Regions from separate parts of the Homo sapiens genome. Here region 2 is linked to region 1. Evidence: fine-mapped QTL for protein levels in blood plasma. A gene starts in region 1. The other region holds a variant in brackets. All regions are shown on one strand. Distances are from middle to middle.

Region 1 (12,053 bases):
CAACAAGCAGAATCCTACTCCCCCATCCCATGCCCTCGGCCCTCGCCCCTCCTGTCCCTAACCTTCAACTCCCAAGCGTCCCAAATTTCATCAGGAGCATCCACCACTGAGTAAAGCTCTGGGGCAATGGGACAGTTCGGTCCGTCGTGGGACCTTTAAACTCCGACCTGGCTGGCTGCGCGGGTGCCCAGGTCTCCCGGCCTCCCACGCCACCGCTCAAAGTCCGAGAACAGGCTGGACGATACCGCAAGGAGATCCCCTGGGATGGCCGGGCCCGGGTGCCCGCCGCTCCCCGGAGGGGTCCCAGATGTGCGGGCTGCGTACGGAGCTCCAACATCTGCGCAAAGGCCCAGGGTGGGGTGGCCACCGGGTGGGCGCTGGCCAAGAGGAGCCCGGGGCGCGAGGTCTTTTCTGAAAAAACCCTTTCGGGGAACTCCAACGCAGGTACGCGGCGCGTGGCAGTGAGTCCCAACTCCCAAAACTGGAACGCGAGGTTCCGGGTCCTGAGCTGCGCGTCCCCTCCCCCCAGCCCACGCCCGGGCCAGAGTGGTGCTGGGGCGAGCTGAGAATCAGGCTCAGCGGCCGGCAGAGTGCAGGGCGTGTGCAGGGGAGCTGCCGCGGCACCTCCCCGCCCGGAGTTCTGTCTGCCACCCCCTTTTGTTATAGGATGCGCTAGGAGCTTTCTCGGAGGAGCAGGCGGGTCGGTTGGGAGTGGTGGGTGGTTGATTCTGTTGAATCTCTTTCCTGCTCTTTCGTCGTCCCCATTTCCCCTCTTCTGCCCCCACCCTTTCCAATCCAGGTCCCTTAAACCTGATCACTTTCCCAGATTGAGGGAAGCTTCTTGGGCAGCCGAGGGACAAGAGGGGAGGAGGTGGAGAAGGGTGTCCGTGTCTGTGTGTGTGTGTGTGTGTGTGTGTGTGTGTGTGTGTGTGTGTGTGTGTGTAGCGGGGTGGCTGCGGTTGCGCTTCGGCCTGAGCAGATCCCAGCGCAAACTTTGGGGAAGACACAAGCCCGGGAAAGTGAGTGAGCGCGGCGCGATGGGGGTGGGGCGGGATGCGGATCTGGGGCCCCCCGCACCAGTCCACTGGAAAATCCCTCCCCACGTGGACCCCCATCCCCAAACCTGCCCACCCAAGGTGCCCGCCGCCTCCCCTTACCGTGGCAAAAGTAACCATGGCATCCGTGTGGCCGTTTCCAGGGACGTCGACATGAAGAGAAAGGTGGACGCGAGCTCGGTCATTCAAAGTCTCCCCCACCCCGCCGCAGCCACTACCCAGCAGGGGAAAAAGGAGAGGAAGAAAGAAAGGAGAGAGAAGAAAGTAGTTGCGCCGGGCTGCGTCGCGGGGCGGTGCGCGGAGCTGTTCGGAAGGGAGAGGAGCTTCAACTCTGAGTCCCGTGAACAGAATCTGCGCGGTTATAACCAGCCAACCCGGCCAGATGGCTCCGCGCTCAGCGCCTTAACCCCTTCCGCGCCGCGCCGCCCTCCCCCGCCGGCCCGCGCCGCGCCGCGCGCGCCCGCGCCCCAGAGCCCCCCCCCCGCCCTCACTTCGGGACCCGTGGCGGGGAAGGGGTCATTTCTCCTGGCCCCTCTTGAAAAACAAAACCAAACCAAACAACAACAGCAACAAAAACTTCCAAATCTGTAGTATTCTTCAGTAACCCCCACCCTTGAGTTCCCTTTTAGAGATCCAGGAAAAAACGAAACGTTAAATGTATCGTAACAGGTTACATGTTAGTGTCTTCAGCCTTTCTTAGTGGTTCTTTTTCTTGAAATTTTTCTTTTTGATCTTTTTTCTTTCAAGATTTTCTTTACAAGGCATCAGGGCCTTTTCCTGCCTTTTTCCTCAGGAGGATCAGGTCTGAGGCGTAAACTCCTCCTCCAAACCTTAGACCCTTCCAGCTCCAGATCTCTCCCCACCCCCTACCAAGCCCACCCGCCACTCCTCCCCCCACCCCACAGCACGAACACGCCCAAGGACAATCGCTCCCCGGCGAACTCCCCGCTCCCGGGGACCCGCACCCAGGACGCTGTGTCGGCGGTCAAGGGAGGTCAAGGTAGAGGGGCGTGGGGGCGGGTGGTCCGAGGGACTAGGGAGGGGCTGTGTGTGCGCGCGCGTGTTTGCGGGAGCTTGAGTGTGGAAGGGAGAGGGAGATGGATCGCAGCCTCCCATTTCACCCATCCTCCAACTTCTAAACCCCTTCCTTCCAAACTAGGATGGGGCCCTGCAGCTAATCACTCGCCCAGCACCCACCAGTCTGCACGCGGGGACAGCGCGAGAAGCAGGAAAGGCGAGCAACAAACAAACCTGTTCGTGGCGCCCCGAAAGTAATGACGCTCACTTCCCCACCGGTGGATACATTCGAGGAGAGGATAGGGGGAGGGGGTCAAAATCTCTTATTTGGAGATAATTTTAGCTGCCCGTTAGACCTCACTTGCTCCGAGCCGTTCTCTCTAAATTTACCAAGTTAAGTCATCTTGATTTCGCCCATTTGCCATCGAGAGAAGGGGGAAAAATACCACTTAGTGATCAACGAGAAATCGAGAGCCCGGAAGCAGAGTTTTGCCCACTTGCCCGCTTCCCGAGTCCTTGCGTGGTGGACCTCCGCTCCAAGCCCCTCATCCCTTCCTCCCTGCCACTTCAGCCGCTCCTCACATCATCTCCTGCCAGGACCTTTTGACTCACGCGCGACTGGGAAGGGCAGCGAGTATCCCGTTTCCTCCCTGCCCTGTCGTTCGAGGTGTCTAATAAGCAAGCCGTTCCGCGTTTCGGTTAGGGCCCAGGTTCAAAAAATCCAAATACCTTGAAATTGCTTGAGAATTTGGTTAAACATCGGAACTGCACCCACCAGTTCAGGACCAACCGGCCGCAGAGAGTAGCTGGGGGGTTGGATGGGGAGGTGGGAAGGGAGGGGGGAGTCTGGGGGCTGCGTACTAGATAGATTGTACCTGCCTCATCATTATCCTGGCTGATGGGGGTTGCCACATCGAAAACCGCCAGAAGCGCCCACCGAGGCCCAGGGGCGTCACCTCCTGCGGTCCCTCGCAAGGGTAGGGTAGTCCTTCAGTGGCTCCCCTCGTGCCAAAATATCGACGTCTTCCTCAGGGCCAGAAGAGGCTGCCGAGTCGTTCCCTCCACCCAGCCACACAGCACCATGAAGGTTTGGATTGGGCGTGCTCTGTCGGGTTCTGCTTTTCTCCCTCTCATCTGGCCCGCCTCCCTGCCCTCCCCCACTTCCCGCACTTGCCCCCCTCCTCCAGCTTCTCGCCCTGGTCAAAGGAGGGATTCAGGCCCCAGTTTCAGATCCACTGGCAGAGTTCTTTTCTCAAGCTCCAGGTCCTCTGGGAACCTGAAGATTGCAAGGAAAGAGGTGGTTGGCTCCTGCTGCAGCAGGGAAGGGGTTAAATACATGTGCGGGCTGATCTGCAGGCAGCTCCCAGGTCCCTGGCAGTCTGGAGGGAGGAGGGGAAGGGGGGCAAACAAACTTGAAAAATCAGAAGAAAGGAAGGAGAAGAAAAGGCAGCAAGCAGTGCGTTTAGGACTTGGATTTGTTCTGCAGATGCCTTGCACTGGCTGGCCGCGTCATTTTGCCGGGACTTTCGGGGATCCCAGAGTTTGTCTTATTTCCAACTCCAAGGGGTTTTGTCCTAAGCTGGTGGGTCTGTCTTTGCTTGCAATCAACAGGCCTTGTAATATGAGAGGTGACACCTTAATCTTGCCAAATATGTGCTGTGTCTTTGTGGAGAGAGGGGAGGAGGGACTGAGGGAAGGAGGGAGGAAGAGGGAGAGACCCAGACAGGAGCAGAGGGTGAAAGATGCACTTTTTCTCAGAAGGATTGGTTTCCCAAAGGGAGAGCCTTAGCCCTTTTCTGAGTAGAAGACCTCTTTCAGACAGTCTACCTTGAGCACCGCCAACTGCCTTTTCCTTTACTGTTTTTCTTTAGACTTCAGACCTAAAGATTTCTTCCCTCTAAGACTAGGGACTGACCCCCCAGCTCGCTGTTGTGGCTTCCAAGGGAGTGGCAAGGTGCTGAATGAAGAAGGTGGGAAGAAAAAAAGAATTAGAAAGGTGTATTTTTAAGAAGACAGAATAAAAAGATCATTCTCTACTATGTAGAGCCATTTTTAAACTAGAATATTGTGACTTCTAAGTAAATCCGTGTTTCTAAATAGAGATTTTTCTTTTCTATAGAAATACCATTGGTATGGATAGCAAAAGCAAAGATCAGGACTGGAAAGTAAGCTGGCTGCGAGCTTGTGCCCTGTACATAGGCCTGGTTAAGGAAGCATCCAGGATGAGATCTTTTAGGATTCACTAGGTAGGTGCTCCTCTCCAAGTTGACTTCGTGGCCATGACTTTGGCTGCCCATCTGTCGACTGTATTTTTAGGTTGCTGAACTTTCTTCTTCTCCCTGCTGCATCTGAGAGTAAGGCCCTGACTCCTGGAAGTGATTTCTGAGAGCAGGAATCAGATCTTGTTTTTGAAAACCCCCTTTAAAACTCTCTCCTAAAGCAAATTTCCAGAGCGTGCCTTCTGGTTACCCTTATCTTTTGCAATAGCACCACTCTGTGGTTGGAACACTGAACAGAAACAAAACGGCAACGTGGGATTGAATTTTGCCTTTATCTTGTGAAAACAGCACTTATCTCCCTATGTTTGAGCTCAGTGGACTGAATGCTGGTGGTGGGGGCTCAGCGTGTGGTGAGGGAGGGGGTCTTGTGCAGTGGCAGTATGTGGTTAATTCATTGTGACATGTTGACCCAGGAAATGAGAGAAGTGGACCGAATGGCCTCCAAGGACCCTTTCCGTGTCAAAGACAAGCTTGTTTTTTTTCCCCATGATCGTGTAGCTAGCCTTGAATGTCTGTCCTCTTCCACTGCTTTTCTTTTTCTCTCTTTTGAGGTTACTAAAATAAACACCACACTTCTCACTGATCCTGAAGTATTTGCAAGTTGCATCTTCTGCTGCTGGAGGGCGCTGTGGGGAGGTCTCGCCCTACCCCCTCCATCCCCACCCCCATCCACCCAGACAGCTGCTAGAGCTGATGGAGTCTGGAAGTCTTCGTTTTTCAAACAATTAAAGTGAATGCAAAAGGTGTTTGCACAGGGACTGGGAGCTTAAGGGTCAGGAAAGGCGGCTTCATGCTACCTTTGTGCCTCCGCACTTGAAAGATTCCTGGCTGCCCACCCGTTTCTATATACTGGCAACAGCATTATTCACCAAGAGCTACAGGCTGTCAAGCCATATAGCAATTCCTCTCAGATGACCTGGAGTCACCTGTGAGACATTCTTCTTTTCTTTCAATTCGCATGCACTTGTCCACAGAAACTGAGTGGCTTGTTTATGTTTATTTAACAAGACCAGGTCTTCCCCCAAATTTCTGTCATTTTAAGAAAGCACAGCTTTGCTCTAAGGACTAGCATTGATCTCTCTACACAGAATACAGACATCAGAGATAAACTTCTATCAGCCCCTATGTCCCCCACTCTGCATTTAATAACTGAGGAAACTCAGAATAACAAAAAACAAAAACAAAAACATAATGACAGACCACGACCTAGAATTTACTGCCAGAGTAGATTTTGGTGCCTGAGAAAAGCAGGTTCCCCTCTACCTTCTCCACTCAGTAGCCATGTGCTTTTGTACAGGTTTCTTAACTTCTTAGAACCCATCTGCAATTGGTGAAGACAACACCAATCTCATAGAAGTAATATGAGGACCAAAGGAACTAATTAATTTAAAACATTCAACACAGTGCCTGGCACAATGTGAATGCCAGTCCCGATCTGCTAGTCCTTACACAGGAAACACTGTCACACCACTGGGGGAATGAGCTATCTTTAGAAAGAAGCTTGGCTCTGGAATGGCCTGTGTATTATTATTTGTATGCCACTACACATTTCATTAATGTAATTTTATGGATGTATATTTTCCCCTTTGGACAAATACAGAAATAAATCAGCAGAATGAAGTAGTGGACATATTTAGAATTTATATAGCTTCCCAACGTGGACCTCAATGTGCATGAAAGACAGAATTGAAGGATTTCAAAATCTCGTCTTATTCATTCTCTGCCTTTCACCCAGAACCACCTCATCATTTAAAAGGAAATTCCACCATATCCTTCAACTCTTAACAGATTGCCTGGTATATTATTGGTTTGTTGTTATTGCTAATTATGTTCTAGGGCTTACATTGAACAATATAATGAATTGCATTGAACAACGGTGAATCAACTTATTCTGTGACATGGCATACATATTCATAATTACGTTTCAAGAAATTACCCGTAATGATAGAGGGAAGGTATGTATTCCTACCACACAGGTGGATGTAGAAATCATAATAAAGTCTCCTATTTCACCAGTCATGACATGAATTCCTAACCACCCTATAAATTAACTTTATGCTGCACCAAACTCCACTCATAAAAAAATGACATTAAGGTTTCCTAGGTAACTAATGCATTTCCAAAGGGAATAGGTCTCAGGAGACAAAGAGGGCAGGGAAAAGGGTGGGGAGGGGAAGTGAAGAAAAGAGAAAAAAACATCCGATGAGACCCACGTGACATAAACAAAATATTTCACGGGGAAGAACCCATAAAGTTTTACTGCCGGGGTCTGACACAGATATGGCATAGCCATTAATTCCATCTTTGGATGATAAAACACTCGATAGACTATCCCTCTCATCACGTATGCTGGCATTTCATATTTCAGATCCAGTTCTACAAATCTTGAGAGGGATTTGACCCTTCCATTCATCTGCTAAGCTGCGTCCACTCAGCAGCCAGCTGACTCTTGTGCCCTCCACCAAATGTTGAGATGAATGTGAAAAACAGGGTTGATTTGCATGTTTCAGAATATACAGATGCTTTTGATCACTGTGGACTCTTAAAATTTTGGAGTGGATCTGTTAGCCTTAGCAGAAGGCTGGGGCCTGAGAATTGAATTATGGGAATGGAGGTTTGGTTTGCAACCCCTCAACTCAGTGGCATTTTCACTGCAGCTTTCTTCATTTGGAGGAGGGTCTGGATGCAAAAGAACATCTTGAATGCTTTGGGCGAAAATGGCAAGTTGTAGGTGGAGCTTAAGGCTGAAATTTACACTGTAGGAACAGAGAAATTCTGACACGCAATGCAATCCAGAGAATTATCCTGGGTTAGAGACAGGGAGATAGGGAAATGAGATCCAGAGTCTTGTCACTGTTTTGTGAGCTCAGGGAAGTAACTAAACTTTTCAGTTTCTTGGTTTTACCATGTGTAAAGGTACTTAACCTCATTTTCTTTCATGACTGTGAATATAAATAAGAAAACAAAGAACACACTAATGTGAATACAGTTAGAAATTTTGTATTATCTGATTTCTTCTATTTTCAGTAGCCCCAGAGTGACATCTGTGAGTGAAGTCTCCAACTGGTTACAAGACACAGCCAGGTGACTCCTATATTCAAAGTGTGGCAAGTTTCCCTGCGAGTCCCATGGCTGACGTGCTCCTACCCATTAGCACTGGGCAGTCAATGTAGAGTAAAGCCTGCCTTTTGCACTTTCCCTGACCTGCTGGAGAAAGGACACAGGACACAAATTCATGGCTAGAAAGCCAACTGGAAAACTAGAACTGTTTCCATCACACAATGTCTTCCATTGGGTTTGAAGTCATTTTAGGCTTTAACTCTGTAGGGGGACTTGGAGTGGCACTAGGGATTAGAAAAGCATTCTGGCCACACCCTGCATTTACCACTTTTACTGGTAGTAAGGGGCAGGGAATGTCTGGGAAGTAAATGCCTAGCAACTCAAGGTGCAGCCTTTGCAGGGATTTGAGACCAAGCAGGATGGGAACCTAGGTCTCCTTACTCCTAATTGAGACCCATCCAGGCTAGCCATGCCTAAGAGCAATGCGTGATGAAATGCCCCTCGAGTACTCACCTCCTATACACCTGCCCCCAGGGGATCCTGCAAATGTCACTTCATCCATCTTCCTGCCCCCAAGACCAGCCCTCACCTTCCACTGATAGGTACAAAGCAGGTGAGGTGGGGTGAGGGGCAAAGAAGGTTCATCCTAATCTCCTCGTGTTTCCTTGAAAATATTCCTCTCTCTACTCAGCAGTTCAGAAAAACTGAAGAGAGAGAATGAGTCACTGAGTTTTTACTTTAAAGACCCTCTGTCCAGTGTTCCCATGAAACATTAAAAAGAGGTATTAGTTCTTGGAGGGGCTAGAAAATATGAGTTCCAGTTAAAATAAGCTTACATACCACTACTATCTCCAACACACACAAACATATACAGACAGACACACCCCATGCAGCCAACCCATCGGATGATTTGCTATATTTACCAGTCAGTTCGCTGATGGTTCTGCTCCTGTCCCCACCCTGAGAGCAGGCTGTCGTCAGGCCCCAGTTCAGAATGCAAATAATGCTCAAAAAGCCAAGGGTGCCCATGCTGGGCTCTCGTCTGTTCAAACCACAAACTCCCAGCACAGGAGGGAGGGAACGTTAGCACGTGGAAACTTTCTCTACAGATAATAGCAATAGGTAACATTTATTGAGTACTTACTGAGCATTGGGTACTTAATAATCTTAGCATTATAGGCCAGGCACTGTTTTAAGCAGCATGTGCATGTGTGTGTATATGTATATATAAAGGTATCTATACACACACATGCAAACACATATGTGTGTGCATACAGATACATATACATATATATACATAAACCAGCACACACACACGTACATATAGATATCTATATCTATACCTATATCTGTATTATCCATGCCAGCATACATATCTATATCTGTAGCTATACAAGCATGCACACATGCACACATGCACTGGTTTTAGCACTAGACTAAGAGGCAGAAACCTGGTTCATGTCTGAGCTCCTCTGTGTGATCTTAGGCAAGTTACGTGTCTTCTCCTAGGCTTCAATTTATTAAATATGTCAAGTGGAAATAATAATGGCACCTACTTTGTAGGCTTTTTTGTAAGGACTCATGATATATAGGTAGGTGCTATTATTAGCTCCACTGTACAGATTAAGAAAATCGAGGTATAAAAAGCTTATATAACTTGGCCAAGGATACATAGGTAGTGAATGGGTGGCAAACAGAGGTTTGAACCCCAGCTGTCTGTCCCTCTGCACCATCTAACCTTGATAGAGTGACATTTTTCTCTTTATACATATGAAGAAACTGAGTCATAGGAGGAGATAAGCAACTTGCCTAAGATTACACAGAGGAGCTCAGACATGAGGCAGGTCTCTTGTTCCTTAGTCCAGTGCCAAGACCTGCAGTAGGAAGGTTGCAATACCCACAGAGCCAGCCCTCCTGGACCCCAGGTTGTCCTAGGGCATGAAACGAGGAAGGAAATGGAGACTGAAAGTAGGATAGGATCAGGTGAAACCATAGGCCTTTGTGTGCGCTAGGTGTGCACACCTTTCTAGGTGAATGTAGCTCACACCAGGACACTCACTTGGCACATGGAAGAAGAACTGATTCCAACACCCACCCATCTCTTCAGCTGGTTCCTTCATGCAGACATAACCTATGTAACTCTTTATGACAGCCTTGGGTACGAGAGCTCCCACAAGCAGACAAAGCCACTCAGTGCCAGGTTGTTAAGAAATTTGTCCAAGGGAACAGGCCATTGGCTTTGCTCCAGAGATTAAAAGGCCACTAATTAAAACTACCAGGGTTTGCAATATCAAGATATACAGGAAAAAAGTTGAGCCTTGAGTCTCTAATAAGTATTAACTCTGTAAATGCCTGCTCAGAAACTACAGGATGTTGGATTAGAACATTATGGGCAATTGATGTTCTGTTACCTATGTTTCATTTGAATCCCATCCAGGCACAAATGTCTACTCATGCAGATGTCTCTTCCTTTAACACAGACATAGACTTAACTGTCATTTAGACCTCAGACTCCAAAGGCAAGCCAGCGTTCAAAACCTGCCATTGAATGAGTTTTAAAATCTGGAGCTGCTGTCAAGATAGTATCTATGGGCATCGGATTTGCTTTTTTTTTTTGAGACGGAGTCTCTCTCTGCCGCCCCAGCAGGAGTGCAGTGGCGCGATCTCTGCTCACTGCAAGCTCCGCCTCCCGGGTTCACGCCATTCTCCTGCCTCAGCCTCCCCAGTAGCTGGGACTACAGGTGCCCACCACCAGGCCCGGCTAATTTTTTGTATTTTTAGTAGAGACGGGGTTTCACCGTGTTAGCCAGGATGGTCTCGATCTCCTGACCTCGTGATCCGCCCGCCTCAGACTCCCAAAGTGCTGGGATTACAGGCGGGAGCCACTGCGCCCAGCCCGGATTTGCATTTTACTACTCCAGCATATCTGCCTCTGCCTCCAAACAAAGATTAGAAAATTCCATTGGTCCTTTTCTCACTATATAAAATAATTTTCATCAGAAGTTTTCAACAATGAGTCTAAAAGCTAGAAATTAGTTCCATTGGAGTGAGTAGAGAGAATAACTTTACAAATGATGACAACTATTATCTTTCCACCTATGTTCATCTCCCCTAACTGACTGTATGGATACCTTAAAAATAAAGAAAATAAAAGAGGTGCACAAGAAAGTTGCAGATAACCTTCCAGACATAAGAAATTAATGAACTAAAAACAATGATTTTGCCCATGGTTAGCAAGGAGTCTGTGGTTAAGTTGAGAATGAAATCACAACTGGTAGGAGATGCCCAGTGTGAACTCTGGTCCACACCCCATATCTCAAGTTGGAAAACAGACTAGCTGCCAGGTAGACGCAATGAATGAATGACATGCGTTCAATGGGGGGTAACTCAGATTCCCCTAGTCAATCCCCTCATTTTACAGAGGAAGTAATTGTAACCCAGGAAAATGAGCACACCTGCCAGAGACCACACAGACAATCAGACTCATCAGTGAGAGTGTGGAGCCCACTCACCTGATTCCCAGGATGCTGCTGTTTGTCTACTGTGTTCATACAGCCCCCAAGAAATAGGCACATCTGCTTTCCTTCTGGAAGCGTTTCATTTCCCTCCAATTCCTCCCTTCCATTTCTTCTTTCCTCTCTTTCTTATTTCAGTGTATTTTAATATTTCCTTTATTTTGTTCCTGTTGTGAACAACTGGTCACACAAGGGAAAATTAACTTAAAATGAAGAAGGCAAGGTTTTAGTAGGAGCTAGAAAAGAATTTTAATCACAGGTGGGATTAAAAGACAGCTTTAAAAGTGTAATTACTACTTTCTTATTTCTGATGACATAAGGTTGGTCTTTTCTGAAGAAACAGGATTAAATAGATGAACTCTATCTCTTTTTCAATAATATTATTATAGATGACCTTTTAAGGTTCCCAACTGAGGAAATCTTTTTTCTCCACATCTTTCTTGCTTTTTTATCTTCTTTGCTTTGTAGTAAAGATAATGAAAGGATCTATTTTGCTGAGGAAATGTTTCTTTGATATAACTTTTTTTTTTTTGAGACGGATTCATCTCACTGTGTTGCCCACATTGGAGTGCAGTGGCATGATCTTGGCTCACTGCACCCTCCACCTCCTGGATTAAAGATATTCTCGTGCCTTAGTCTCCCGAGTAGCTGGGATTACAGGCGTGCACCACCATGCCCAACTAATTTTTTGTATTTTTCTTCTTTTTTTTCTTTGTAGAGATGAAGTTTTGCCACGTTAGCCAGGCTAGTCTCAAACTCCTGGCCTCAAGTGATCTGGCCGCCTTGGCCTCCCAAAGTGCTGGGATTATAGGCGTAAGTCACTGCGCCTGGCCCCCAGAACTTTTAATTTTAATTTTCCTGTGATAAAGCTATCAGTAAGTCCTGGGATAAATTCTTAACTCTTGTATCTACCTGCTAATTACTTTTTCATAAACAAACCGACACCAATATCTAGCATTAGCATTGTGGATCCCAGGAGCCTAGGAACATCCAACAAATCGGAGTAGAAAAGATCCAGGTATCTATAGGGTCATGAAGTAAATGGAAAGTGTGACTAATCTGCAAGATTCCAAGGAGTAAAGCTAGGATTGATGGATGGAATTTACAGGGGTGCAGATTTCAAGTTA
Region 2 (12,053 bases), 140 kb before region 1:
CAGAGGAAATCCTGCTGGGCCCCAGCCAGCTCCTTTTCTGCTGTATTCTCTAAGGACAGTGGCCAGGAAGGGCCTCCTGTCCCACCTCCCAGGAACATATCAGCCAGCTCAGTGCACACAAAGAAAGCCACAGCCCTTTTCCCTTGGGAGGCAAACAGTGATTTGACTCTGACCTGATTTCCTACCCAGATCACATAAAATGGCTGGAAGGTGTGAGGTGAGGCAGAGCAAATCAGCCCACTGCATTTTGAATGTTGTGATGTAGGAAGTGCACATCTCGAGGCTTAGAAATAAGGTGCAAGTTGGAAAACAGATCAGTCCGCTACTTTGAAGTTGTGTCTGTTAGAACAGAGGCCCTGAGTATTAATCACTTTCCATCTACAGTACGAAATGACGTGCAGTCTTACTTCCCTGGCCTCTTTAAGACTTGTTTACTTATCTGTCAAATGGGAGATAATAATAGTACCCACCAAATAAGATCATTTGGGAAATTAAATGGCATGATGAAAGGACATATAACAAGTGCCCAGTAAGTTGTAGCTATGATTATGATGTTATTCACTCTCAAATATGGTTCTGGCCGTTCACATTCACATACACATTTAGAGAACAATATCTGAACTACATTTTGGTAAAGGGCTTTAATTGTTGGTGCAGGATGCAGTATAAACACCTGCCAAAAAGATTTAAGACTTTCTTTGCAGAAAGTACCCCTGTGTTCAAATACGCAATCATTCATTTGTCATTTGGTTTGCTCCATGGACATTTATAGAGCACTTAGACATGCCAGATGCTGTGTTGGGTGTGTGTGGCTCCACCTAGCAGGACCTGTTTCTTTCTCCACTGTGTCTCCGTTTTCTTAAGTAAAATGGATACAAGAATAACTTCTATTACATGACATGCTAAAAAGTGTTGAGAGATAATGGTCAAATTAAGCAAACTGTGGAATCATATTCTTGGTATTTCTGGCTTTCTGGTACTACTCAGGGGCAGATGTACATGGGCATTCCATTTCCTTGCCCATTACACTTACGTAGTACCCTCATCACTATAGGTAATTTTTTTCAGGAAAGCGTGCACCCTGTTTTGGCTTGCTCAACAGCAATGTTAGATATCTCAGAAGTGGTTTAATCCTTCCAGCACCAAATGGTCCAAATTGACTTAGCATGCTTTGCTGCAGTGGTTGACATGTGCTCTTTTGACAGCCACTGTCTGGTGGACTTATTATACTTATACACATCAAAGATGGAAAAGGCATGTGACTCAGCTGCATGAGCTCAGGGACCTGATCATGCTGCATGAGCTTCTGTATCAGTCAGAGCAGCTCCTTCTGATGGGGAGCCTAAGAGTGGACAGTCCTTTTTAGCATCAATCCTGGCTACTCAGTGCTTATGGTTCTGTCCCTCAGGCTTTTGTCATTGCGATCACCTCCGACTTTATCCCCCGCCTGGTGTACCAGTACTCCTACAGTCACAATGGGACTCTGCACGGCTTTGTCAACCACACCCTCTCCTTTTTCAACGTCAGCCAGCTGAAGGAGGGGACGCAGCCAGAAAACTCACAGTTTGACCAGGAGGTTCAGTTCTGCAGGTAAAGTAATCTTCAGGAGAAGGGCAGCAGAGGACCAGAAGCAATAGATCCAAATAATTACGGGGACGACCTAGAATTACAACCCTGCACAACATGATGATGTTTTGGACAACAGCAGACCACATATATGGCGATTGTCCCGTAAGATTATAATACCATATTTTTACCATACATCTTCTGTATTTAGATATATTTAGGTACACAAATACTTACCACTATATTACTGCCTACAGTATTCAGTACAGTAATATGCCGTACAAGTTTGTAGCCTGGGAGCAATAGACTATACTTTATAGCCTAGGTGTGACGTAGGCTATATAGCATCTAGATTTGTATAAGCACGTTCTGTGATGTTTGCAAAGTCACCTAATGATGCATGTCTCAGAACATATCCCCATCGTTAAGCAACACACGACTGTACATCATTCTCCTTTCCCTCTGTCTCCTGCTCTCTCTGCAGTTGTTATAAATCAATTGTTATAAATCAGCTTTGATGACTCAAAAAATATTTATGGACTGCCTTTTTCTAGACACTATGGAGCAGACAAAGAGCCTTGTCCTCACCATCAAGGGGGCTATGGTCTGGTTGAGAAGAAAATAAGCAGAACAGATAGGAAATAGCAGGTTATTTGGTGAGCTTATGTATGGACCATGAGCATTGTGGGTGCTCAGAGGAGAGGGAGATTACTTGAGGGACTAGAATGGAAAGGGTGGGCCTCCTGGAGGGGCAGCTAGGTGTTGTAAGAGAGAAAAGAAAAACATTCTAGGTGGGGAGTCGTCATGGGCAAAGTCATGGGGTGGGGACAAATGTGGGCTGTTGGATAAAGACTTGGTGCTAGGTGATATGGTTAGCAAGGAGACACAGTAAAGGGATTAATAAAGGAAATACAGTAAATGTAGAAACTCCTACACCAGCATAAGCCAAAAGGTTGTTGAATTTGAAGAGATGGGATAAAGTACATAATGGGAAGTCCTGAAATCTAACGGGAATTAGAATGTGATGCAATAGGAAGACACTGGACTTTTTTAGTGTCAGGGAATGATAGGATAAAGGGAAGGTTTAGAGAAATTGATCTGTTCTCAGTGAGGACAATGGGCTAGAGTTGGTAGGACCCAGGGAGCGCAGCTGGGCTGCTGCATCATTTAGACATGAACTGTGCTGGGCATAAACCAGGGTGGCGGGAGGAATTAAGAGGAGAGGAGAAGATGAGCTATTTCACATGAAATATTGCAGAGTTGGTGACAGTAGACATAGGAGAGTGGCTGAGCTAGGATTATCTCCAAAACTTGGACTGAAGTCAGAGGACTGGGATGTGGTTACATTGATAGGGAGAGGGAATATGCTGAGAGAGTCTAATTTTATGCTACATATGATGAATTTGATTTCAATCATGTTACATTTAAAACGATGTTAAGAAATCCAAGAGGTCATTTTCACCCAACTCCTTGACACACTAAGCTGGACTTCTGGAGACGTCCAACTTAGAGTCCTGATTGAAGGCCATCAGCACTGGGGTCACTGAAGCCAAGAAATGGAAAACTCTCCACTATTTACCCAAGAAGGGCAAATGAAGAGAATAAGAGCAGAGGGGAATAATTTATTCAACCCATTTGTACCCTGGTTAAAAGATAGTCCCAATAAAGCACTTGACCAAAGATCCTACCTCATATATATAAATCAGAATAGTTAATTACACCAATAACAAAAACCTAAGAGAAGGTATTGTGGGACCAACATAGGGCTTTCTTAGACCATCCCCAATAATATTTGATGTAAAAGCTGTGTTTTCAGTTGTGTTGGCAGCAGTGATGACCCTGGGCATGTCTGCCATGCTTGGTGCCCAAGGCCAGCCTTTCGTAAGACAGCCACATAGGTTCAGATTTGTGGTCTGAGACCATGAACGAGAGAACACCAATTGGTTTTCCCAACCTGGGTGGCTGAGTTAAACAACTGTACCAATCTATGGTTTAAATAGAAGGGTATTCCAGTTCCAGGAACAACAACTTCAGGGTTCCACTGTCGTCAACCAAGAAAAGATAAAAAATGAGGAACCAGACACAAGAATTGATGAATAAATTTACTCATAAGTGTCAATTTATATTAGCCTAGATGTTTCAGGATTTTTCGCATCTGGGCCTATAAAGAGTCTGACTCTCATACTAAAATCACATTGCAGGCAGATTTGCTGCCAGGCTATGCACTGCCTGGGGGCCCCTCTGCATGGCTGACATGCTAGACTGTCTGTCCATGGTGCTGGACTTGGGTCTGCAGACCCCAGCGACATAGTTCCACAGCACAGAGGGTCTGGACCAGCTCGAGGCCTTTCCAGTAGCATCTAGGTCTTCTCAAAGCAGGGTCTAAAGCTCACATCTCTCTAAGAGCGCAGGTCTCCACCTCCATGTCCAATGGGAGGCAGCACCAGTGTGACTTGTCGTGTGGGAAAGCCAGGCTCACATCGTCTGTTTCTTTAGTTGCTCTAGAAGCACTTGTCCTCAGAGCACAAGGGTCTCTGATCTTGCCCTTGACCATTGGATTTTCCACTAACACCTATGAATATGCTTTTCAGGTATATCACTGGTGAAACAGGCTTAAATCAATAGGAATTTTAATGGTCCCTATGGGAAGTTGAAGGTAGATCTAATCTTAGGCAAGTTTTCATTCAATCCAGTCTGCCCAAATCCAGTCTCTGCCCACCTCCCAGTTCCACTGCAGTCAATGTTGACTGTGTTTTTAAGTTCCGTATGATTGCCAGGAACTGTGGTGAGAAATAAGGCAAATGGGTGCTACTCAGCCAAAACAACCAATGCCCAGGACACCAGGTATTGTGAATATGTGTGGATCAGATTGAGCTTTCTTGTATCTGCCTTCAGAGTCACTGGATTTTCCGGCCAGCTATAAGGCTCTGATAGTTGTCTCCCCATTATTCCCATGCAAGTAGATAAGATCATGGCTTGTTTGTGGCCCGTTTTAGAAAAAAATCTGACACCGAGTGGCAGAATTATCAGTGGGCACATGCATAGAAAGTGCACTTTCATTCTATATTTCTGCCAAAAAAATTTATTTGCAGAAAATAAATCATCCCAAGATCAAGCTGAAGTGACTTTGAAGCATCCATCATTTTTCCTTCCTCTCTCAGTACCAGTGAGGATTACAGATTCATTAGGCAAATATTTTTGAGACCCTACTAAAGGCTTGGCATTGGTTGTATAATAGGGAGCGAGATATAGTGCATCCCTCAAGAACTCTAGATGGAGCAGACAATAAGTAAACAAGGAATTAAAATTAAAATACAGCTTTAATGATTGACAATAGGGCAACAGCAGAGAGCTAAGGGATCCCTAAGGAGGGAGGCCCTGCACCTAACACAGACTTAAGTGTTTAGGGGATTTTCAAGGGAGATGAAACCTGAAGAATGAACAGTACAAGAATGGCCATGGAGACAATCACATTGAAACTCCTCACTCATGTGGCCATGTCAGCCTGGCTGGTAAGTGGGGTGGGGAGGGTGGTAGGTCATGGGGCAGCAAGGGGTGTGTCAGGTAGTGATGGAGGTTCCGAGAGAACACTGTATTCCAGGGAGACAGGCTCAGGTGAGAGGGGTAAGCTATGAGAGAGGAGGCTGAAAGAAAAAAACAAACTCCATATTAAGGAGAGGATGCTGGTCCTGTTGAGGTGCGTGGAGTCTCTCTTAGGGCCACAGGGTACCACTGTAGGGGTTTCAGAGGGCAGTGATGAGATCAAGCTTTTTATTGGTGTTACATCTCTGCCTACAGTGTGAAGACTATTGGGTTACACTGAGGGTTATGTTTAACATAAAGAGATGCCCTACTGTGAAATATAGGTAGATGTTCAGAAAATAAGGTCAGCATGTGATCTAGACATAATATGTCAAATAGGTGTGCTCTGGGGGCTGCGTTTCCTAGATTGATAAGGGTTGTTGATGGAAATCTCTGCCTCATATGAGTCCTATCCACTGCCTGCTGTGTGAACTTGACTGGGTCACTCAATTCTCTGGAGATTTAGAAAGCAGAGGCATAACCTCTATGGATGTCTTTCTAAGTCAGGAATTGAGATCCTTGAGATAATTCCGTATACATATATGTGTACATGGAAGAGAGAGAGAGAGAGAGAAGAAAGAGAGAGGGGAGGAGGAGGAGAAGGGACTATGATAGAGAAGTATTTTGAGAAACAGAGATAACTCTTCAGCTAGTCCTAGAGCCAGTTAAAACTGCTTCCGTGGTGGGAAACAAGGTTTGCCATGATTTTCTGGCAAATAGCGTTGGGAACTTGTTGACCCTTCTTATTCTTAGCTTTCAGTGACCTCTGGAGATAAATGTGGTCAAATAAAACTGAGGTCTCCGACTCCAACCCAGCCTCGCCAGGGATAGAGGTATCTTAAAAATAGCAATAAAAGTTAGCACAAGTCTCCGGCTGCCCGTTTGAGATGCATTCCCAGCATTTTGGAGCGATGCTTGCCTCTGTCATCTGACTGCTCTGGCAGGGCTGCTCCGTAAACAGTCCCGTGACATCAATCTGCAGGCATGATTAGCAGCATTTGACAGGGTCGAAGGGCCGCCACGTCCTGGAGGACGGATGTAGGCTTGACTTCCCAGCTCAGCTGGAAGGGAGCATAGATATCTTGTCTCAGAGCTCGAAGAGCCTACCTGGGCATTGTCAACCCAGCGGGTCTGCTTGGAGGTGTTTGTTGAGCATCCAGCAGCAGCTTCTGTGGATGGCTTCTGCCAGGTTTTCCTGCAGGTCCTAAGGGCTTGCACACCCCGTATCCTGACAAAAGTCTTTGAAGAGGGGTGCTCCCTTCCAGCCCATGGCTGCCTCCCATCTGCTTCCCACCGAAACCAGAGGCTGTTAGCTTTTCTGGGTGCCACATTTCCTG[A/T]TTCTTATCAACCACTGGATTGACATGCTACTCATTAGTTCCTAATTGCCTGTACTGTTTTCCTTTGTTAAGGGTCAATTCCAGGAGGCAGTTTTAAGTAGCTCAGATGGTATGAAAATATTGTATGTAGTTGTGTTCAGCATTAACATGACATTAATTTCCACTGGGGCTACTAAAATGTTTTTTACATGCCACTATTTGGAGTTGAGAAATGCATTTACTAGCTGATTCATTACATAACAAAAGCTCATTAAAAAGCTGTTACTGATCGTTGACTTCAGCACTGTCCCTGCCCACAGTGATTTTGTGTTGTGATGAATTGTGGCAGATGTCACTGTCACTAGTCACCCTGCAAGTGAGGACAGGATGAGGACATCTGAGCCCTGAGTCTCTCTCCTCTCTGTACCTCAGTTTTTTCATCTGTAAAAATGGAGACTTTGGAATAAAAAATCTTCAAAGATTCTTTTCTTTTTTTTTTTAAACTTCAGGTTTAATGACATGTCATTTATTAATCTAGTTCTACAAAAATTCTAAACATTACAGGTAACCACTCCACCTCTGTTTTGCCTCCACCCTAACCCCTGCCCAACCCCAGGCATCCTTCCAACAGTAATAGGGTGATACTTACGGGTGAATGTTCTCTAGGCATTTTTCTATGCATTAACATAGTATTAACTTGTAGGACTTTTAAGGTATTGTTTCATGGGTTTGTTTTATAATGAAATATATTTTGAGTTAATGGAAATCTTATTTAAGTCATGTACAAACTCAATTCAATCAATGTGAGTTTTCACAAAGTTAGAACAATCTAGATAAAATATTAACATAATTTTAAAGCTAAAACATAATGTTGATTTCTGTATCACTTTCATTTATTATATGAGTCTGTTCAAATTAACATAATTTTGCTCAGGAAAGCTTACTATAAAAATGTACTTGAATCAACTGTGTATTGCCATTAATTACATTCATCTTTTACCATTTTGAACTTTTTAATTGTAAAAGTAATTAATTTCATAGACACATATTGTGTATGTATATAAGAAGAAAAGTGTCACTTCTCAGCCCCCACCCCAGCTGTTCTATCCCAGAAGAAACTGTTGTGTTCATTTTCTGCAAAAGCTCCGGAAATCATATTCACCTAGATTGTCTTATTTAATTCTCACAGTGTCTTTCTTTAAAATGCAAGGTATACACACAAGCAGACACACACGCACACACATCTATTATTCACTCCTGGCTGGGATTGAGACAGCTCCTCTATGCTCAGCGCTGGGATACACATTTTGGGAGTTCCACTCTGTAGATCAGGGACCTAGGTTCGGAAATGGGGAATGACTTCCTCGGTCTCTTACAGGTAGTAAGTGGCGTAGCTGCTCCAGGTGCAGACTAGCTTTTTAGACAGGCTAGTTGTCTCATTATTGGAAGTCTCTCCTTATTAGAAAACTCAGGGGAACTCTCAAAATTTATGTTATTTAAGCCTCAAGGAAAATGAAGGAGGACTGGAGGGGTGAGGGTGAGATCCAGGAACATCCCTAAAATAATATGCTGGGGATAAAACTCTGCTTCTCTTTGGGGGCACGGCTGGCAGCTGCAGGAGTCTGACCAGTTGTGGGGGCTCACCCAGTGCTGGGGAACTCAGTGGGACTTTGGGAGGCCCGAGCTCCCCAAGCCATGGGAACGGGTCTGTTGTGGAGCTGTCTGGCAGCCTCCACCCACCAGCCAGCACTTGCCCATTTCATGCTATTTACCTGGACAGAGGTCCTGAGAGAAGCCCTGTATGGCTGTGCCCTTGGCTGACTCCTGATTTGCACTAAAACTTGCAGCATTTAGTGCTTACATGTTCAAAAATCCTTCTGGAAAGCTAGGAGGAACTGGAAGCCGTGATCTACATGCTCTGTCCTCTTTTAACAGAAAAGGTGTATTCCATAAGTAACCTCCAGTAAAAAGAGAAAGAATAGTTGCTATTTATTGGGTTCCTCTGATGGGCCAGATAGTGTGCGGAGCACTCGGCGTTGACCCTCCGTCTTCAGAACAACTCTGTGATGGAAAGTTCAGGCCCACTTTATAGATGAGAAAGCTGGGCATCAGAAGGTTAGGTAACTTGCAAGAGGACAGAGAACGACAGTGCTGGACAGGGCTTTCAACCCCTCACCTGCTACCTCCAAAGCACGAACTGTCGCCAGTGCTAAGCACTGGGTTTAGAAACAAAACACGCAGCATCACGGTGGTGGAAATTATTCGGTTGATTAGCCACTCTCTTTGGTGAACACTTCTATTCTTAAAGCTAATTGTCTCTTTGTTTAATTAGTGTCTTCTAAGTTACTCAGTGAAACATTTGATAAGCCCGACTTCTTAGGGTAAAATTTAAAAACAATTGTGAAATCTGAACTTACTGTTGGAATGTAAACAACGAGTCATTTACCTGGTGGTAGGGGCTTAGGAGAATCAAGGTTTTTCAAACTATGAGTCATGGTTCATTAGTGAATTATGAAATCACTTTAGTGGGTCATGATCGGCATTTTGAAGAATAGGGTGGGTTGGCCAGCACGGGCGGATCAGGAGGTCAGGAGATCGAGACCATCTTGGCTAACACAGTGAAACCACGTCTCTACTAAAAATACAAAAAATTAGCCGGGTGTGGTGGCGGGCGCCTGTAGTCCCAGCTGAGGGACTGAGGCTGAGGCAGGAGAATGGCGTGAACCTGGGAGGCGGAGGTTGCAGTGAGCCGAGATCACGTTCCTGCACTCCAGCCTGGGCGACAGAGCGAGACTCCATCTCAAAAAAAAAAAAAAAAAAAAAGCATAGGGTGGGTTAGGATCAGATAGAGTAGAATAGGAAAATACTAGTGCATTCTAGTGCATTGCACACAACAAAGTATGTTTTGTGTAATTTTTATTGCAGTCTGTGTATGTGCATGAATGTAAAATGTATTTCTCACTGTAGGTCATAGTTTTTATAAAGTTAGCTTTGGAAAGAAATGTGAACAGATGAATATTAAATTGCTCACTGTTCTTTTCTGTGGCATGGCTTACCATCAGTTCCTAACGGAGCTACACTTAGCCTATCTGCATCGAGCTATTTTCAAGTAGAGTTTTCTGAACAGATCTCTGTGTTAGTCTTTCTGCAGATCCTCAATTAGATGGATATGCTTGTTAAACTTAAAACATGTTTTAGACACTGAGGGAGGACAAAGTGACATTTCCAAAAGCTGGGGTGAGTTAATAGCAGAGGTGGAACCAGAATTAGATTATTTATGGATTCTTTTCAGACTGGAAAAAAGAGGGGTGAGCAGTGGCTCGCATACTGAGGTCAGTGAGCAGCTGTTCCTGCAGAGATGCAGCTAGAGAACAAGAGAAATGGACTTTCATTGTAGCAGTAGGGATTGGGCTGAACCCAGGGAAGGATTTCCCCATGGTAAGGAGTGTGCGTGTGTGCACACATGTGAGTGTGTGTATGTGTGTGTGGCACCCTTCTCTGGAGGTCTCTAGAAGAGTGAGATAAATTGCTGTTGCCATGGCGTCCTGTCTGGGGGCGACGGGAGGATAGGTGAGTCTGAGGTTTTTCCCACCCCAAGATGTTCTTATTCATTTAGCCACGCTCTCCCTCTCTGCCATCAGCAAGGATAATCTGGAGCTGGCCATGTTTCTGTCCTCAGCTGAGGACGGTTATGATGAATCCCGTGGTGCTCTGCTGGGCTGCAGTTAGCTTTGCTTTTCATCCGGATGTCAAACCAAGCTTGCGGCAGCTGTGATCAGCTGTTGGGAGAGGGGGAGTCGGGCAGGGAGAGGGTAGCTCCTGGCCTCCTGCCAAGCCCTAGTCGAGTCCCCAGTGTCCACCTCTCAGTTGTGTCTTTCTGTTGCTGATTCTATCACTGCGCTCTTTTTTATCTTTGTGTGTGCGTCTCTTTTTCTCTTCCTCTTTTTCTCTTCTCTTCTTCTCTCATCTCTCTTTGGACAATGGAAAACAAACTAGCTTTTGCATGGACCTTTTAGAGCAGCTAATTCATTTATGGCAGGAGAAGGGACCAAAGAGCACCTACTTGTGAATGTCCCCTAAACTGCGGTCACTGGTAAGATGCCCTGTGATAATGGGAAGAAAGCCTAGATTCAGCCAGACTCGCATTCCTACCCTGACTCCACCTTTACTGGTCACGAGACTCTGGCCACACACTTCAACTTCTCCAAGCCTCAGTTTCCTCCTGTGTTATGCTGGGGTAACAATGCCTGCCTGAGGATGTTGTCGTGAAGATGAAATGTGAAACCTTCCAGAAAAACCCTTTGCTCAGGGATTGACCCGGGCAGAGTCCCTACCTGCCTTCCTTGGCAGCCACTATCATTGCTTGGTGGCCTGACACCACCCACCTCTTTCTCTGGCCCAGGATGAGCAAAGATTTGTTGAATTCCATGGAGAAAACTGTTCCAGGAAGGGTCATAGTTCTGGTACCAGCCCCTTGTCATTTTTCCAGGCTTAGAAAAATGTGAGTCTGAGAAAATGAGCTAGTATTCACATGAATCATTCTGGGATGGGGGTGAAAAGGCAAGGGTGAGGGAAAACCCAAGGCTTCTCTATGGGTCTGAGAAAGAGGCATGAAATCACGTCAGGCATTAACATTTTGTAGTTTAAACCATGCAGACAGATCAGGAAGATGATTAGCAAAACAGAATACTGATCAACTGTGATGCTTAATGACCCTCCCATCCCAAATTCACTCAGCCTCCAGCTTGGTCTGGATCAGCCTTCTTTTTGGTTCAAGAATGCAGCCATGAAGCAAGGCCAGCCCCTCTAGTGGCCGTAGTCCTGAAGCATCTGGAAGGGGAAGAAGCCCAAGACTGCCTGCTGGTGTCTGCATCTTCCCCAACCCCCCCGGCTGCAGAGCACCATTCAGGGTGTCTGGGTCTCCCCTACCCACACAGAGGCCACAGGCTAGTGGGAGGCCCAGGTGGACCCACTGGCCTGGACTACCCTCAGATGCCCTGGGCTCCTTTGGGAGTTGATGCCTGACACCAAAGTAAGCTTTGGGAGCTATTGGAGAGGGTAGTAGAAATGTCTTTTTAGGACATTTCTAGGCTGACATTGGCTTTCTTGGACTTTAGTCCTTTTTGGAAATTTGTTGGTTAGGCCATAGATTCCCCCCACTTCCCCCTGCTTCTCAAGTCAATGCCAAGGGCATGCGTGCCTGATGCTCCAGCCAGCCCTCGAGGTTTCACCCAGAGAATGACCACCCTTTTCTCCATGCGCTCCTGATCTTAACACCACATTTCTCTTTGGGCAGGTTTAAGGATTACCGAGAGCCGCCATGGGCCCCGAACCCTTATGAGTTTTCGAAACAGTACTGGTTTATTCTGTCCGCCCGTCTGGCTTTTGTCATAATCTTCCAGGTGAGTTGCTGGGATAGGGAATAGCCCATTCGAATCCGGGCTGCAGGAGTAAGGACACTGCACTCATTGCTTGCACCTACCTCCAGGTTCCGGTGGTACTCTGTGACATAAGAAAGCTTCATGTGTGGCAGGCAGAAGTGAGGGCTCCTTTCCGGGTTGAAGCAGGAGGACTCTTGAGAGGGCTTTC

Alleles and levels. Alleles are on the strand shown, and positions count from the first base shown. The strength of an association depends on the size of the effect and on how common the allele is.
As copies of T replace A in region 2, the plasma level of the protein whose gene starts at base 1,392 in region 1 goes up (moderate association).

What was found. PIP is the posterior inclusion probability: the model's chance that the variant is causal. The UK Biobank Pharma Proteomics Project read protein levels with antibody pairs (Olink). The fine-mapping took linkage between variants from a reference panel, not from the people measured, so its PIPs are less certain.
Region 2: its variant is fine-mapped to the plasma level of the NTF3 protein (UK Biobank, PIP 0.91).

What each region holds. Positions count from the first base shown.
Region 1 is chr12:5,421,447-5,433,499 of GRCh38, reverse strand. It overlaps NTF3 (neurotrophin 3), which reads right to left and starts at 1,392. Exons shown (of 2, transcript NM_001102654.2): 1 at 1,158-1,392. The coding sequence starts at 1,175. RefSeq lists an enhancer at 50-575.
Region 2 is chr12:5,565,371-5,577,423 of GRCh38, reverse strand. It overlaps ANO2 (anoctamin 2), which reads left to right. Exons shown (of 25, transcript NM_001364791.2): 23 at 1,409-1,590; 24 at 11,761-11,866. Among named protein-coding and RNA genes, the nearest start is that of NTF3, 140 kb to the right of the region's middle. RefSeq lists an enhancer at 4,701-5,202. The variant A/T (reference allele first, on the strand shown) is at 6,486.